Linked DNA regions of Homo sapiens. The protein of the gene in region 1 interacts with the protein of each later gene in a pairwise test. Each region holds a gene or a part of one and is shown in the gene's direction. Other genes may lie near its edges.

The links. Proteins that work in one complex are often made in the same cells at the same time.
Region 2: the proteins of CHN2 (region 1) and ANKK1 interact in binary tests that used the Homo sapiens proteins (3 or more experiments, as listed by UniProt).

The regions. Positions count from the first base shown.
Region 1 is NC_000007.14:29,498,759-29,505,777, forward strand, and holds part of CHN2 (beta-chimaerin), read left to right. Parts: intron 1-1,108; coding exon 1,109-1,282; intron 1,283-5,985; coding exon 5,986-6,063; intron 6,064-7,019.
Region 2 is NC_000011.10:113,383,137-113,390,782, forward strand, and holds the start of ANKK1 (ankyrin repeat and protein kinase domain-containing protein 1), read left to right. Parts: upstream 1-4,642; 5' UTR 4,643-4,748; coding exon 4,749-4,933; intron 4,934-4,939; exon of another isoform or gene 4,940-7,253; intron 7,254-7,646.

The DNA.
Region 1 (7,019 bases):
TTTTTTTTTTTTTTTTTTTTTGGAGACAGAGTCTCCCTCTGTCACCAGGCTGGAGTGCGGTGGCGCAATCTCAGCTTACTGCAACCTCTGCCTCCTGGGTTCAAGTGATTCTCCTGCCTCAGCCTCCTGAGTAGCTGGGATTACAGGGGTCCACCACCATGCCCAGCTAATTTTGTATTTTTAGTAGAGACAGGGTTTCACCATGTTGACTGGTCTCAAACTCCTGGCCTCAGGCAATCCGCCCACCTGCCTCGGCCTCCCAAAGTGCTGGGATTACAGGCGTGAGCCACCACGCCCGGCCAACTGTGCCTTTTTATCATCAGAGAAATTCCGTCAGTGGATATTGACTGCTAACAGGCTCTTCGTGTTTTCATTGAACTTTAAAAGCACCCTTTTCAGCTTTGGATTTTCATATGAACTTTATAAATAATCATCACATTACATTACATGGTATTGTTATAAACTCTCAAGTACTCCTACTGGTGTATATAGTTAGGCATTATTTCCACTCACAGGTGTCAAAATAAGGCATGTAGAAAGGAAAGCGGCCTACCCAAACTGCCCAAGGAGGAAGGGATTGGAAACTATGGGGCAACCTTCCAGGAAAGGGGAAGAGGATACCAATGGTCGTGGGCTTCTCAAAGCAAAGATTAGAGAGTCCTGCAGAAAGAGTAACTCTGCCTCCCACACAAGGAGCATCAAGAGCTTAAAGGAAAGAGTCTGGAACAAACCCTAGGTGCCCTTTATAAGCCAGGACTGTCTGGGAATCCAAACCCGAAAACCTACTTGTGGACCCAAAGGGTTCCAGCCTGAAACAGGAAAACATATACAAAAAAACCTGATCAATTACCTAAGCTGTCTCAGATGTTCTGTTCTTAAGGTCCAGCGACAGAGAAGGCTTAACGAGAAAAATGGAATCATATAAGGGTTTAGTGATTAGAGATGATACTTGTATTTATCCTGTAGAGAGTCCTAGAAACGGGATAGATGTTCCAGAGAAATATGTCAAACCCTTGGGTGGTGATATTTTTATTTTTGGCAACATATAATTTGTGTTGTGCTTTGACAAAAGGGCTGGGCTAGGCTAATGTGGCTTCTTTGTTTACAGACTGTGGATTGAACGTACACAAACAGTGTTCCAAGCACGTTCCCAATGACTGCCAACCTGATCTCAAGAGGATCAAGAAAGTGTACTGTTGTGACCTCACAACACTTGTGAAGGCTCACAACACTCAGAGACCCATGGTGGTAGACATATGCATTCGGGAAATTGAAGCAAGAGGTTTGGAAAATACTTCCTATTATAGTAGTATAGTGATTTTATTTTTATTGTTTGTTTTTACTGTTGTCAAGGAAACAGAGTTGCTCTACTACTCTTGTTGGGAAAATGACCTACGCATGTGTGCGCACACACACACTCTCTCTCTCTCACAGGTAGACTCAATCCAACCAGCTATATCAATTTCCATTGTATATATAAACCATGCATATATGCATTCAAAAAATGTTTACTGAACATTTATTATATGGTAGGCATTGAGGTAATAAAGGTCACCATTCTCACCTTCAAGAAATTCATACTTCAGCTGGGTGCAGTGGCTAACGCCTGTAATCCCAACACTTTTTGGAAGCTGAGGCCAGACAATCACCTGAGCCCAGGAGTTCAAGACCAGCATGGGCAACATAGTGAGACCCCATCCTACAAAATTCTTTTAAAAAATTAGCCAGGTGTGGTGGTGCACACCTGTAGTTCCAGCTACTCGAGAGGCTGAGGCATGGAAGAAATTCATACTTTAGAGTGGGCAATCAGGGGAGCAAATAAATAAACATTGTGGATGGCCGTGTTCAGGGTACCATGGAGTCACAAAGCAAAATGTTTTAATCCTATTTAAGGACGGTGAGAAGGGTTATGGCAGAGGTGAGGCTTGAATTGGAGCTTTGAAAAAAAAGGTGCTTCTGTTAAATAAGAAATTGTTGAGTAACACATACATCTCCTACCACATAAAAATGTGCTCCTAATATTCATCGTTTATTTCGAAGAGGAGAGTTCAAAGATTTAAAAGATCTATGCAATGAAAAATAAAGGAAACAAGGAAGATAGAAACATTCCAAAAAATGTTCTTTATGTTGTACATGAGTCACTTTTCCTTTATTTGTGCTTTCTTTGGCCACTGTTCAGTATCAAAATGTTCACTGAAGTTGCCGGATATAATTTGGGTGATTTGGCCATGTATAGAGCCTTTCTATAAGGCTTAAACCACTTTTGCCATGTATCATATTCTGTTATACTGGCTATCCATTATTGTGTCCTAATTGGCTTAATATATTTTATACATATATATTCATTGGTCAACTACCCCATTTTTCCAAAGCACAACTAAAGAGGATGTCATAGCTTATTATCCCAACCCTTTTAGAGAGAGGAAATTATTCCCTTTTCTATGGAGGGGGAAAACCATAGCTATCCTGTTCCCTGAGAACTTGCTAATTTAATCCCAGAGTGTAAGAAATGCCTTCTATCTTTTCACCACTGTGGCTGACAGAGCTTAATGAGTGCTTTGGGATCTGGTGAACATATTAATCCAGTGGCTAAACTGGGTAAGAGGAAAGGAGGGATTCCCTGCCTCTGGATGAGTGGTTGGGACAAGTGACCCTGGGCCCTGCAGTTTGGGGTCAGATTATCAGCCTCTCCAGAGCCTGCAGTCAGGGCTTTTCTGAAGAAGCTGGGGTCCTCCCATTGTGATCCTTACCAAAGACAACTGATAATTCAGGCATGATAACTACTGACATGTCTAACATTTAAGAATAGGGGGCACTGCACTAAGTTTGCCTAGTACAAGAGCGAGATAGAGTAGCACAAATTAGGAATTGATGCCAAAAGAGTCACAGCACAGGGATTAGAGCCCCAGACAGGTATTAGGGGCCTAAGCATGCAAGCAGAACCAGAGAATGCACCGGGAGAAATTTGTATGACACCCGCATTCCCAGCTGTGGGGCCACCACTACCAACACTTTTCCCTGTCTTCCATCCATAAAAAATCCTTATTGTTCTCCAAATGTTCTTTTATGTTCATTTGTCTCTGCGTGATGTGGCAGAGTGAAAAGATCAAGGATTTGAAGTTAAATTATCAGCCCTGTCTCTTACTGGCTGTAGTATGACCTTGGGCAAGTTGCTTACTACATTTGCATATCTGTTTCTTCATCTATAATATGAATGGAATCAACTGTACCTCATAAGGTGGTTGGTGAGGATTAAAGTGACTTGATACATAAATGGACCGAGTACAATGTCCAATCTACTGAACTCAATCTATGTTAATTTTGCCTTTTCTTGGAATGACCCACACCCATACCTCCACCTCCAAATCTGTCTAACTATATTATGTAGCCTGTACATCTCAGTGCTGTCACAGAGACCCTGAGTAACAGTGCCTTTGACAAGATAGAAATCTATTTCTTTGCCCAGTAATAGTCCAGGTACCCAGGAGCAGTCCAGGAATAGTCTGTTCCACCGTGGCAGGAACCCAGGCACTGCAGCTTGTTGCTCTGTCCTGCTTGAGTGCTATCCTGCGTGCACAATCACAGTTGGCCACCACCATCTCATCTGCATTTCACTTAACAGGAAGTGGAAAAGAGCATGCTCCATTCCTTCAAGGCCACAGAAGCTGTAAATGTCACTTCTGCTCTCACATGGGCCAGAGTTTAATGGCCACTGCAATGGATATTGTTCTAAAAATCAAAGGTTCCATTACAACAGAAGAATGGGAGAACAAATATTGGAAGGATAGCTGGCAACTTCTGCTACTCTGGCAAACTCTAACCATCCTTTATCATTTCCTTCAAAGATTAGCTTCTTAAAAAAGCATCTCGATGTAATACAGGGTGACGCTTTGCTCAGTGAAGCATGGGCTAAAGTCAGGAAAATTACCCCCATTTAATTATAATCCAAACCATACAACTTGGCATATTATATAAGGCATAGATTTTTTTTTTTAAAAGTGACGGGATACATGTGCAGAATGTGGAGGTTTGTTAAATAGGTATACATGTGCCATGGTGATTTGCTGCACCTATCAACCTGTCATCTAAGTCTTAGGCCCTGTATGCATTAGGTATTTGTCCTAATGCTCTCCTTCCCCTTGACCCCCACCCTCCAACAGGCCCCGGTGTGTGGTGGTCCCCTCCCTGTGTCCATGTGTTCTCACTGTTCAACTCCCACTTATGAGTGAGAACAAAAGCATGGATTTTTCTACGTTCCTTGAAAACCTGGATTTCTTTGAAAGTGACTCAGTGAATCTTATGGCTGAATGTTTGTGTCCCCTGCCCCACCAAATTTACATATTGAAGCCCTAATCTCCAGTGTGATTGTCTTTGGAGACGGAGGTCTCCAAAGAAATAATTAAGGCTAAATGAGGTCCTGAGGGAGGGACCCTAAACATTATGACTAATATCCTTATGAGAAGAGACACCAAAGAGCAAGCTCGCTCTCTCACTCTCCATGCACATATACCAAGGAAAGGACGTGTGAGAGAAGGTGGCCATCTATGAGCCAGAAAGAGAGCCTCACCAGAGGCCAGAACTTTGATTCATCCATCAACAGGCAGGGTTCATTGTTCACTGCTAGGGGCTCCCATAATCCACTGGGTCTGTGCCTCTGTGGCAGTGCATGTTCCAACTGGAATGAGATGTGCTCATATGCACCAACATCTTAGAACAGGATGACCCACAGGTTTCGTCTTGTGTGGCAACTCCAGTTGATCAGTAGTGGTCACCTGAACAATTGGAACTGAGATGAATTCTGAGGCTAAATAGGGCTCAGTGGGAAAAAGGGCTGAGATCAACTAAGAGTATCTGTCATGGTCACAGGAGGGATGAGGGGAAGTATTCGTGATTTACGCCACGTATTTGTTGTCTCTGATGCATACCTAATGAAGACCCTTATATATGGCAGATAATACATACTCCATAAATGTTTTCCAAATGAAAAAACAGGAGAATATGTGAGTTATCAAGAGTTTGGCAGAATATATGGCGGCAGCAGCAGAGGCTATTTGTTTGCTCATTTTTACTGTAGCTATAGTTTTGATAGCAGCTAGTTTGTGACATACAAAGTCTGAAACCCAGTCCTTTATCCCTGCTCATACTTTTGGGAACTGACTCGTTTTTAGGACATATCTTAACAAATCAATAAGCTCCAGGGACAGAAACCATGTCTTTTTTTCTTAGCCTAAATTTGCAGTGATCCAATTTCCAGAAGCAATAACCAAAACTTTATTTTCCTGCATCTGTTTGTATAATCAGTTGTCTAAAAGTATAACAAGTAACCGTTTTTAATTAAACAGTTAACATAGTCTTATTTACAAGTAAACATGAAAGGCTGTAATAGTCTAATTTTTTCCAATACAATCAGAGTAATACAGATTAGATACCCACATACATACATGTGTGTATCTAGTACAGTGCTACATACAATATAGCACATGGATTAAGATGATGCTAGGTACCCCATTTGCGCTGCTGTGATTATTACACATCTTATGCCTGTATCAAAATATCTCATATACCCCATAAATATATACACCTACTGTGTACCCACAAAAATTAATAAAGATGATGCTAGGAAGAAAGCCAGGTTGCTTCCTACGATGACGAAATTCATGTCCATCAAGCTCATGAACACAGGAAAGGAAGTAAGGGAACGGTCCATGGGAATCTTAAATATCAGTTCTCTTTGCAAAGCAGGGAAGGATGAAGACTGGATTTCCATTGAGATCTCCACTGCTACATGGGCAAATGAGAACAGACTTGCCTGGGAAATTGAGACAGACAAGTCCAAGTTCTGATGCAACAGTGTGTGATAAATAAAATCACTGTCTATGTTTGCTCATTTTCTGATAGCATGTAGTATAGACGTGAAATTAGTCTTTTTTTTTTTTTTAGATGTTTCAAGAAGCTAAAGTCAGTCTCTCTCTCTCTCTCTAACAGGATTAAAATCGGAAGGCCTTTACAGAGTCTCTGGGTTCACTGAACACATTGAAGATGTCAAAATGGCATTTGACAGAGGTAAGCTTGTACTTTCTTGAATGCCATCTGACATCCTAACACCCTTCTCGATTGGAAGTAGGTTTTAATCATAGTAGAAATGGGGTTTCAGAACTACTAAGAGTTGTTCTTCAAGAAACGGAGGAATAATGGCTTACAAATCTCATGTTTCTGCCTCACTGGGTGAAGTGTTACCTTCACAGCCATTGATAAGTGATCACTGTCAATGGGCAGACAATCCACATGGCATTGGAGTACCCATCTGCATCCCCTGTCTCAGAATCCCATTCTTCTCATTCTCTCAAAGCTCCAAAGAAGGGATCATAGGGATGGGAGGGCACCCCCAGCACTAATGTAGGGGAAGGCAGTGGACATGTAGGAGGGAACTGCTTTTGTTCTTTATAACTGTGGTGTATATTCTCTAGAACATACTATCTCTTAAGTCAGATATCATGGCCATCCTGGGGATCCTGTTAAAAATATGGGTCACTGGGACCCAACTTGAAGACTCATTCAGAAAGCTGGATAAGCCCAAGAATCTGTATTTTTAATAAGCAATCCAAATAATTCTGGTACAGCCAGTCAAGACATGGAAGCCCTACTGGATAGAGCCTACTGGATAGAGCCTCTACTTTGTAGTGTGGTATGTGAAATCAGTGAGGTAGCCCTCCCTCTCTCTTCAGACTTCTCTCCAGTTCCTCCTCCCTACTGTACTGCACACTCCAGCAATCCTGAAATACACCCTATTTGTTGCCATGAAGAAGTGCCTTGGCTCACATTGTCCTGTCTATCTGAAATGTATTCACCTCTCTGCCTGGCAAACACCTGTAATCAGGGGTCAGCTCAAGCCTTTCCTCCTTGAGGAAGCCTCGCTGACTACCCCAAGCTAACCTCAGAGCTCCACTTCCTTTTTCCACATCCCCCCACATTCTCCACACTTCTTCAGCATAGCAATCTTCCTATTTCCTTGTCATTGT
Region 2 (7,646 bases), on another chromosome or scaffold:
AATTTTGTCACATGCATTGATTCATGTGGCCACCACCACAGTTAAGATACAGAATAGTTTCATCACAAGGTTCCTTTGCACTAACCTTTTACAGCTACACCCACCTGCCTCTCCCCCAATCTCACCTCTGACAACCACTAATCTGTTCTCCATCTCTATAATTTTGTCATTTTAAGAATGCAATATAAATGGAGTCATACAGTATGTAACCTTTTATGATTGGCTTTGTTCACTCAATAGAATTCTCTGGGGCCTCATCCAAGTGGCTGTGTATATCAGTAGTTGCTGAGTCCTATTCCATAATACAGCACTATGGTGTGTTTAGCCATTCATTGGTTGAAGGACATCTGAGCGGTTTCCAGATTTTAGCTATTGCAAATAAAGCTGCAATGAGCATTCATATACAGATTTTTGTGTGAACACTGTTTTCATTTCTCTGGGATAGATTCCCAAGAGTGCAATTGCTGGGTTGTATGGTAATCATATGTTTAGTCTTATAAGAAATGGCCAAATTCTTTTCTAGAATTGCCATACCATTTTACATTTCCACCAGCGTATGAGTGATCCCATTACTCTACATCCTCATCAGCATTTGGCGTTGCCACTATCTTTTCAGTTTTATTTTTAGCCATTCTGATAGGTAGTTAGTGATATCTTACTTGCATTGCTTAGTGGCTCATGATATTAAACATTTTTTCAAGAACTTATTTGTCATCTGTATATTCTCTTCAGAGAAATGTATTTTCCCATTTTCTAATTTGATGCTTTTTTAGCATTGAGTTTGAAGACCTCCTTATATACTCTATGAACCAGCACTTTGTCAAATATGTGCTTTACAAACATTTTCTCCCCATCTGCACTCTTCTCTTCACCTTCACCAGGTCTTTCACTGAGTGAGAGTTTTTCATTTTGATGAGGTTCAGTTTATCAATTTTCCCTTTTATGGATTGTGCCTGTGGGATTCGGCCTAAGAACTTTTCATCTAATCCTAGGTCCAGAATATTTTCTCCTTTTTTTTTCCTAAAATTTTTATAAGTTTACATTTAATATTTAAGTCCATGATTCATTTTGAGTTAATTTTTCAGGTGTGAAGTATCAGCTGGTTCATATTTTTTGCCTAGGAGTATTCCTAGTATATACCTAAGGAATGTAACCTTTAAAAATATACCTAGTATTTAGATATATTTTATGGATGATAATCATAATAACCATTCCAAAAGGTTGCTGTAAGAATTATAACCTTTAAAAATATCCTAGGTATATTAAACTAATATGATATTATATTGTATTTTTATGTTATATTAGTATAATATTATACTAATATACTAGGTATATTTTTAAAGGTTATAATTCTTATAGCAATGTTTTGGAATGGTTATTATGATTATCATCTATTTTACAGATGGAGAAACCCAGAAAGATTTGATAATGTGACCAAGGTTAAACAAATGCTAAGTGATAGAAAGAAGCCAGGGTTTAAATGCGGGTCTGACTGACTGACTCACTCCCACATTTAAACCCTGTTCCTATTGCCTCATTCAATCCCTTTCACTCTGGGAGTCCTGCTTCCTGAACAGATGTTCCACTTTCCTGCATACATTCCTTTATCCTGACCAACCTCAGTACACAAGCTACCAGAGGCTGGGGCCTGCCAGAACCTGTCCAGGGTTCTCCGTGACATGTTTGCAGGGTGGAGAACAGGGGCAGACTGGGAAACTTCCCTATATGCAAATAGCTTGTCATTCCGGTTTGGGGAAAGGCTCACATCAGATTTCAGCATCTTCTAAAGTATTGCAGAGCTCCTGTACCAGCTCACTTGTCTGGGAGGAGCAGGCTAAAAATCTTAGGTTCCCCAAAGACAATCACACATACACACAAAATTCATTTAATAACTCCAAATCCAGAACACTTCCATCTTCAATCTGCCCAAACAAAATGCACTGATAGAGGTTAGTTGGAAGGACTCAGAGCATTTTGGGGTAAAACTTCTATAGCTAGAACCTGTTCCTTGCCCCTTCTGGTGGGTGGGGGTCATAATTGGACTATAACCACTTCATTATCCATTCCCATTTGTAGGTAGATATGGGTAAAGGTAGAGTTTCCCTCCCAACCCCCCAGCTCTCTCCCCTCCACACACTGGCTGCTGACTTCCCAACCAGCCAGGACCTAGGGACTTCTGCACTCAGACCACTGGAAAGAAACCAGCAGCCTCTGAGTTGACTTTACTCTTTTGCAAATCCCTATACCTCACCCCACTTTTAATGAGAGATCCAGGAGTTCTTTGCCTCTGTGACCTTATACTCAGAAAGGGTCCCTCCACTTACAACTTCTCCCAGAGCTTATCCAAAGACTACTAGGCCTTTGCCCTAGCCCATGTTAGACAGCTGTAAGGAGCAGGACAAGCCCAGTCAAATGATCCAGTCCCTCTGGGTCAATGAATGTATCTATTTTGACTGACTCCTCAGAAGCCTCAGGGGTGCTTGAACCCACAGCAGAGAGTTTCAACAGGTGGGTCAGCAGTAATACGCCCTGACCCTGCAGTTCCTCCACCTCCACCCCTGTGAGAAATTCAGAGGTATTTTGTTCGGGATTCTGGCAACATGCCTTGAGCCCTGGGTGTCCCCTCTTCTAGGAATGATGCTTTCTTCAGTATTCCTGTGACAGTCTCTGCAGGCAGACAATGGCAGCTTCTGGTTACTTCCTCTCCCTGGAGAGCCACTTCAGGTATAAGTGGATCAAGGGGAACTGCTGAAATGACTCAGGCCATTCACCCTTGGTATTTCCTCCAGGAGCTGAGATAGGTCTCGCTGAATGTCAAAGATCGGGCCTCAGTCAAACTTCCGCAGAGCTGGGTGGCTGGTCACCTTCCCAGTCTCCATGTTCACCCTCCCAGTAGAAGGTATGAAACATCCTCTTGACCTCCTGGTCTCCCTGATGACAATGTCCTTTATCACCTTCCAAACTTCTCTGGCAGAGGCTTTAAACTTGGGCAGGCAGGGCTACTCCAGAGACAATGGGTTCTGTTATGCCCTGTCTTGCTCCAGCCAAAGCAAGCTGGGGGCCTCCCTCTGACATATGTTTGGGGGATACGTCCTGCTCCTGATGCAGTTTCCATCATCTCCACCCTCTTCCAGGGAGCATGACTCTCTCTCTTCCTTTTTTGTATTCATAAAAGGCTACTCCCTGATCCTCCCCTGGCCAACCATTTCCATAGAAACTAAGAGACTTGAGTTTGAATATCAACTACCACTTACTAGCTATGTGTCCATTGATTACTTATTGTCTTGAAGCCAGTTTCCTCATCTGTGAATAGAAGATGTTGACCTCATAACATTGTTGCAAGATAAACAGGATAATATATGTAAAGCAATGCAGTAACTGAAATAGTCACTGATCCTGGAACAAAGTGAGTGTTCAATTAGTAGTGGCTATCACTAGTTTCTATGACAACTGTCTCCAGGCCCAATCTTTGATCCTTAATCTGCTTGCCAGAATTCATCCTGGAAGTTGCAGGTAAGTTGTTACAGAGGGAGCAAGTTCTCCAGCTTCCACAGGGAGTCTCTGTTTGCCTATCATGCCTACACTGTTCCCTGGGAGTCTGGTGGGCTTGTGGCATGGACGAGGGGCTCTGCAGGTTTGGGCTGAAGGCAAGGCACTTCCTTGTCTGGTAGGTAGGCTCCTCAAACCTAACAGTGATCACTCTGAGGGCTCCTTGTGGACTTACTCAGCTGTAGGCAAATAGTGGCTGACTCTGCACTCCGTGGCCACAGTTCCTCCAGGTATGCCTGTCTCTGGGCAATGGCCCACTTGGTCAGTGCCCCTGGGGAGACCTGTCTGTTCAAGCACTTGTCATTTTCCCTGCTCTGAGGGTCTCCAAGGTGAGAGGGCAATCCCATGGACCCAGGACCCAGGGGAACCTCCAAGCTCAGCACTGGTCAGGCTCCAGCTAGAGCCTCCTCTCATCCCTGGCAACAAACTGCCCCTAGTAACTGCGCCAAGGAGGCCACCTCCCCCGTGGCCACCCCGAGGCTGGGGTCCATCCCTCTGAGGTTGGATAGAGCGCAGCCCAGGAAGGGAGTCCCCTGCAGACAGGAGCCCAGCCTCCCCCGCAACTCTGTCCCTGCTGACCCCTCCTTGGTAACCTATAGCACACCAAGGCTGGCTAACAAACAAACAAACAAAACCCCAACAAGAACAAAGGAAACATGAAACCAGTCAGACCAACAGATTCAGACCAGAAAATCCCCATTAAAATTGTTTGAGCCCCATACTTGCTGGATAGGGGCAGGGGTCCAGGCCTGAATCCTTCATAAACCATAAAACCTTGAATGCACTGAAGGAATGCATAAACCGATTTCACTTAGCGCTGGGCCTAAATAAACTGGATCCAACTTCTCAGGCTGGACTTCTTCCAGCTTCGGGACACCTTCTCCCAGCATCCCTCCCTAGGGGGAACTGGGGAAAATCAAAGGCTGAGACAGGGGAAATGCGAGGGCTTCGGAGGGACATACCCTCTTCCCCAGGCCCAGGTCGCTCCATCCCTGCTGGGGCCTCAGGGCTCATGTCTGGGATTTCCCCACCTTTGCGGGGCAGGAGCGGCTCCTCTTGGGCGGGGAAGGAGGCAGGGCCGGCTCGTCTCCCCATTCCCCTCTCCCGGACCCGAGGAGCAGGAAGCGGCGGCTCCTTCGGCCACCCAGGCAGCAGCCACAGCGGGGAGTGCGCGGCGCGGGGACAGGAAGAGAGGGGCAATGGCTGCCGACCCCACCGAGCTGCGGCTGGGCAGCCTCCCCGTCTTCACCCGCGACGACTTCGAGGGCGACTGGCGCCTAGTGGCCAGCGGCGGCTTCAGCCAGGTGTTCCAGGCGCGGCACAGGCGCTGGCGGACGGAGTACGCCATCAAGTGCGCCCCCTGCCTTCCACCCGACGCCGCCAGGTACTGCCAGCCTCGCCCTCCCCTTTCTCGGAGGAGAAACTGAGGCCCGGCAAGCTTTGGGCCCAGGGAGCTTGCGAGGAAGGAGTGGGCTGAGTTTGGGGCTGAGGACTGTCCCCCGCGGTATTTCTGAATTCCACCCAGTAGCCTGAGCCTCCCAGGCACACCCATACCTGTCTCCCTAACCAAAATAGAGTTGGCACATAATACCTGTTTGTAGACTCAACAGAGGTCAAAGGCAAGCGGGAACTACCTACCAAAGACGCCTTTATCCCATCTGACCTTCCGAACTTGTCCTGCCTGCTTCCATCCTTCTCTCCAGCGCCTTCTTCCCCCGGTGTCCTGTGGCAATAACTGCTCTTGACCGCTCTCTGCCATCCTCCTACCCACCCCAGCTCTCAGGGCAGGGCTGAGCATCCTGGGAGGCTGTGGCACTTTGCTCAGATCTGCAGGGAATCATGTTCTCTCTTCCCACGGTGGCGGGAGGGAGGAGGCCCCTCCCAATCAGTGCAGGCTGAGGAGGTCAGGGGATGGAGACTGCCCGGCCTGATGGCCTGTCCAGGCCCTTGGAGGGTCAAGTCTGGAGTTCTCTCATCTCTGTTTTTGTTTTTGTCCCTTGCTGTCATGCGCACTACAGCGACGCCTTGACATGCCCCTATTTTTCTCTTCCTACCTCTTTCCTACGTTTCCATTATTCTCTGTCTTCCCACTGATTTGGAATCCAGTCTCATTCCCACTGGAGTTGCATATACTAGCTGTGTGCTTGCACCTTGCAGCCATGAAGAAGACACTCGGGATGTTAAACCTGAGCATGATAACCATGTCCTCCTCCCAAGGCTCTGGGACATCAATTAGAGAGTCCGGGACGGGGGTCTCTCTGACTGGCATCTGGCTTGGATGCTATCTGTGGTTCTCTAGGATTACCATGCAAACTCTTAAGATACAGCCTCAGGTGCCACACACTCAGTTCCCAGGCCTTCCCCCACCTTATGAGGAGAGGAAAAATAAGATCGCCTAAGGCCCACTCACCTTCCTCCCTCAACATCTGCCTGTTGGTTTTGGAGGAGGGTCAGAGTATGCTAGGATTTGTCTAAATCATTTATAGCCTTTTGAATATAGAACGAAAGGAAACAGATGGCAGTGACATGATTACACTGTGAGACATTGATGCTAACTCCTGCCACTTTCCCTTCCCAAGTTCTGGGAATTCCCTGGGTGGAGGGGGTAAGATAATTAATGGTAATTAAGACTTAGTATGTATGGATTACTATACTAGGAGCTTTACGTGCATTACTTTACTAGATCCTCTTTCCAGCTATTCATTCATTCATCCACTTGACAAATGCTTACTGCTCTTCTACTATGTGTCAGGCACTGTTCTACACCCTGGGATTAACGATGAATGCAACAGATGTGTCCTTTCTCTCCGGGAGATTGCAGCCTAGGGGGAGGAAGACATTAACCAGATAACCCCACATGTAAATGTAAATGTGCTACTGTGAGAAGCTTAAGAAGGGGAGATTTGTGGCTCTAGGAGAGCTCATTAACAGAAAGTTTGACTGATATCAGAAAAGGCTTCCTTGAAGAAGTTACACTACAGCTGAAATGTGAAGAATGAGTATAAGTTAAGTAGGTGAGGAGGAGAAAGTTTTCCAAGAACAGACAACAGAGTGTGCAAAGAATCTGTGGCAAGAGGGGCATGGTAAGTACAAAGATGGGAAAAGGCCATGATGGCTGGAGTTGGGAGAGTAAAAGAGCAGTGGAAAACCACTGAGCATTTACAACCAGGTAGCGGTGGTGACCATGGGAGGGATTAATCAGAATTGCAGTATGGAGAATGCATTGGGAGGGGTAGAGTGGATTCTGGTTAAGTTAGGAGATTGTTATCTTCATTCTGATGAGAGACGGATAATAGGGGCTAGAGTGGAGTGTTGGTAGTGGAGATAGGAAAGGAATGGGTCAAGCCATATTTAGAAGGTAAAAATCCACCCGACTTGGTGCTGGATTAGTCATGGGGAGGATCACGATGAGGAAGAGGGGTATTAAAGCTAACTTGATGTCTGGCTTGCCCAAAGGAATGGAGGATCCACTAAAATGTCCACTCCATGAGAGTGTCTGTTTTGGTCACAGCTCTGTCTCCTGTGCCTGGCACAGAGTTGGTGTTCAATAAATATTTATTGAATGGCAGTGTTGACAATTAATGGAGAGACTATGAAAAGAGGCCTAGACTTGGAGAGGAAGATCATGAGTTCAGCTTTGTACCTGTTGAGTTTCAGATGCCTTTAAACAACCAAGAAGAGTTGTCATGGACATCAGAGTAAAGGTTGGTGCTAACAATATTAAAACTTGGGAGTCATTTGTTATAAGTGGTCATTAAAACTAGGGCATCAGGCTGGGCCTGGTGGCTCACGCTTGTAATCCCAGCACTTTGAGAGGCCAAGGCTGGTGGATCACCTGAGGTCAGGCAAGACCAGCCTGACCAATATGGTGAAACTCCATCTCTACTAAAAATACATAAATTAGCTGGGCGTGGTGGTGGGCACCTGTAGTCCCAGCTACTCAGGAGGTTGAGATAGGAGAATTGCTTGAACCCAGGAGGCAGAGGTTGCAGTGAGCCAAGATCATGCCATTGCACTCCAGCCTGGGCAACAAAAGTGAGACTTGGTCTCAAAAAAAAAAAAAAACAAAGCAAAAAAAAGGCATGGAGGAGATGCAT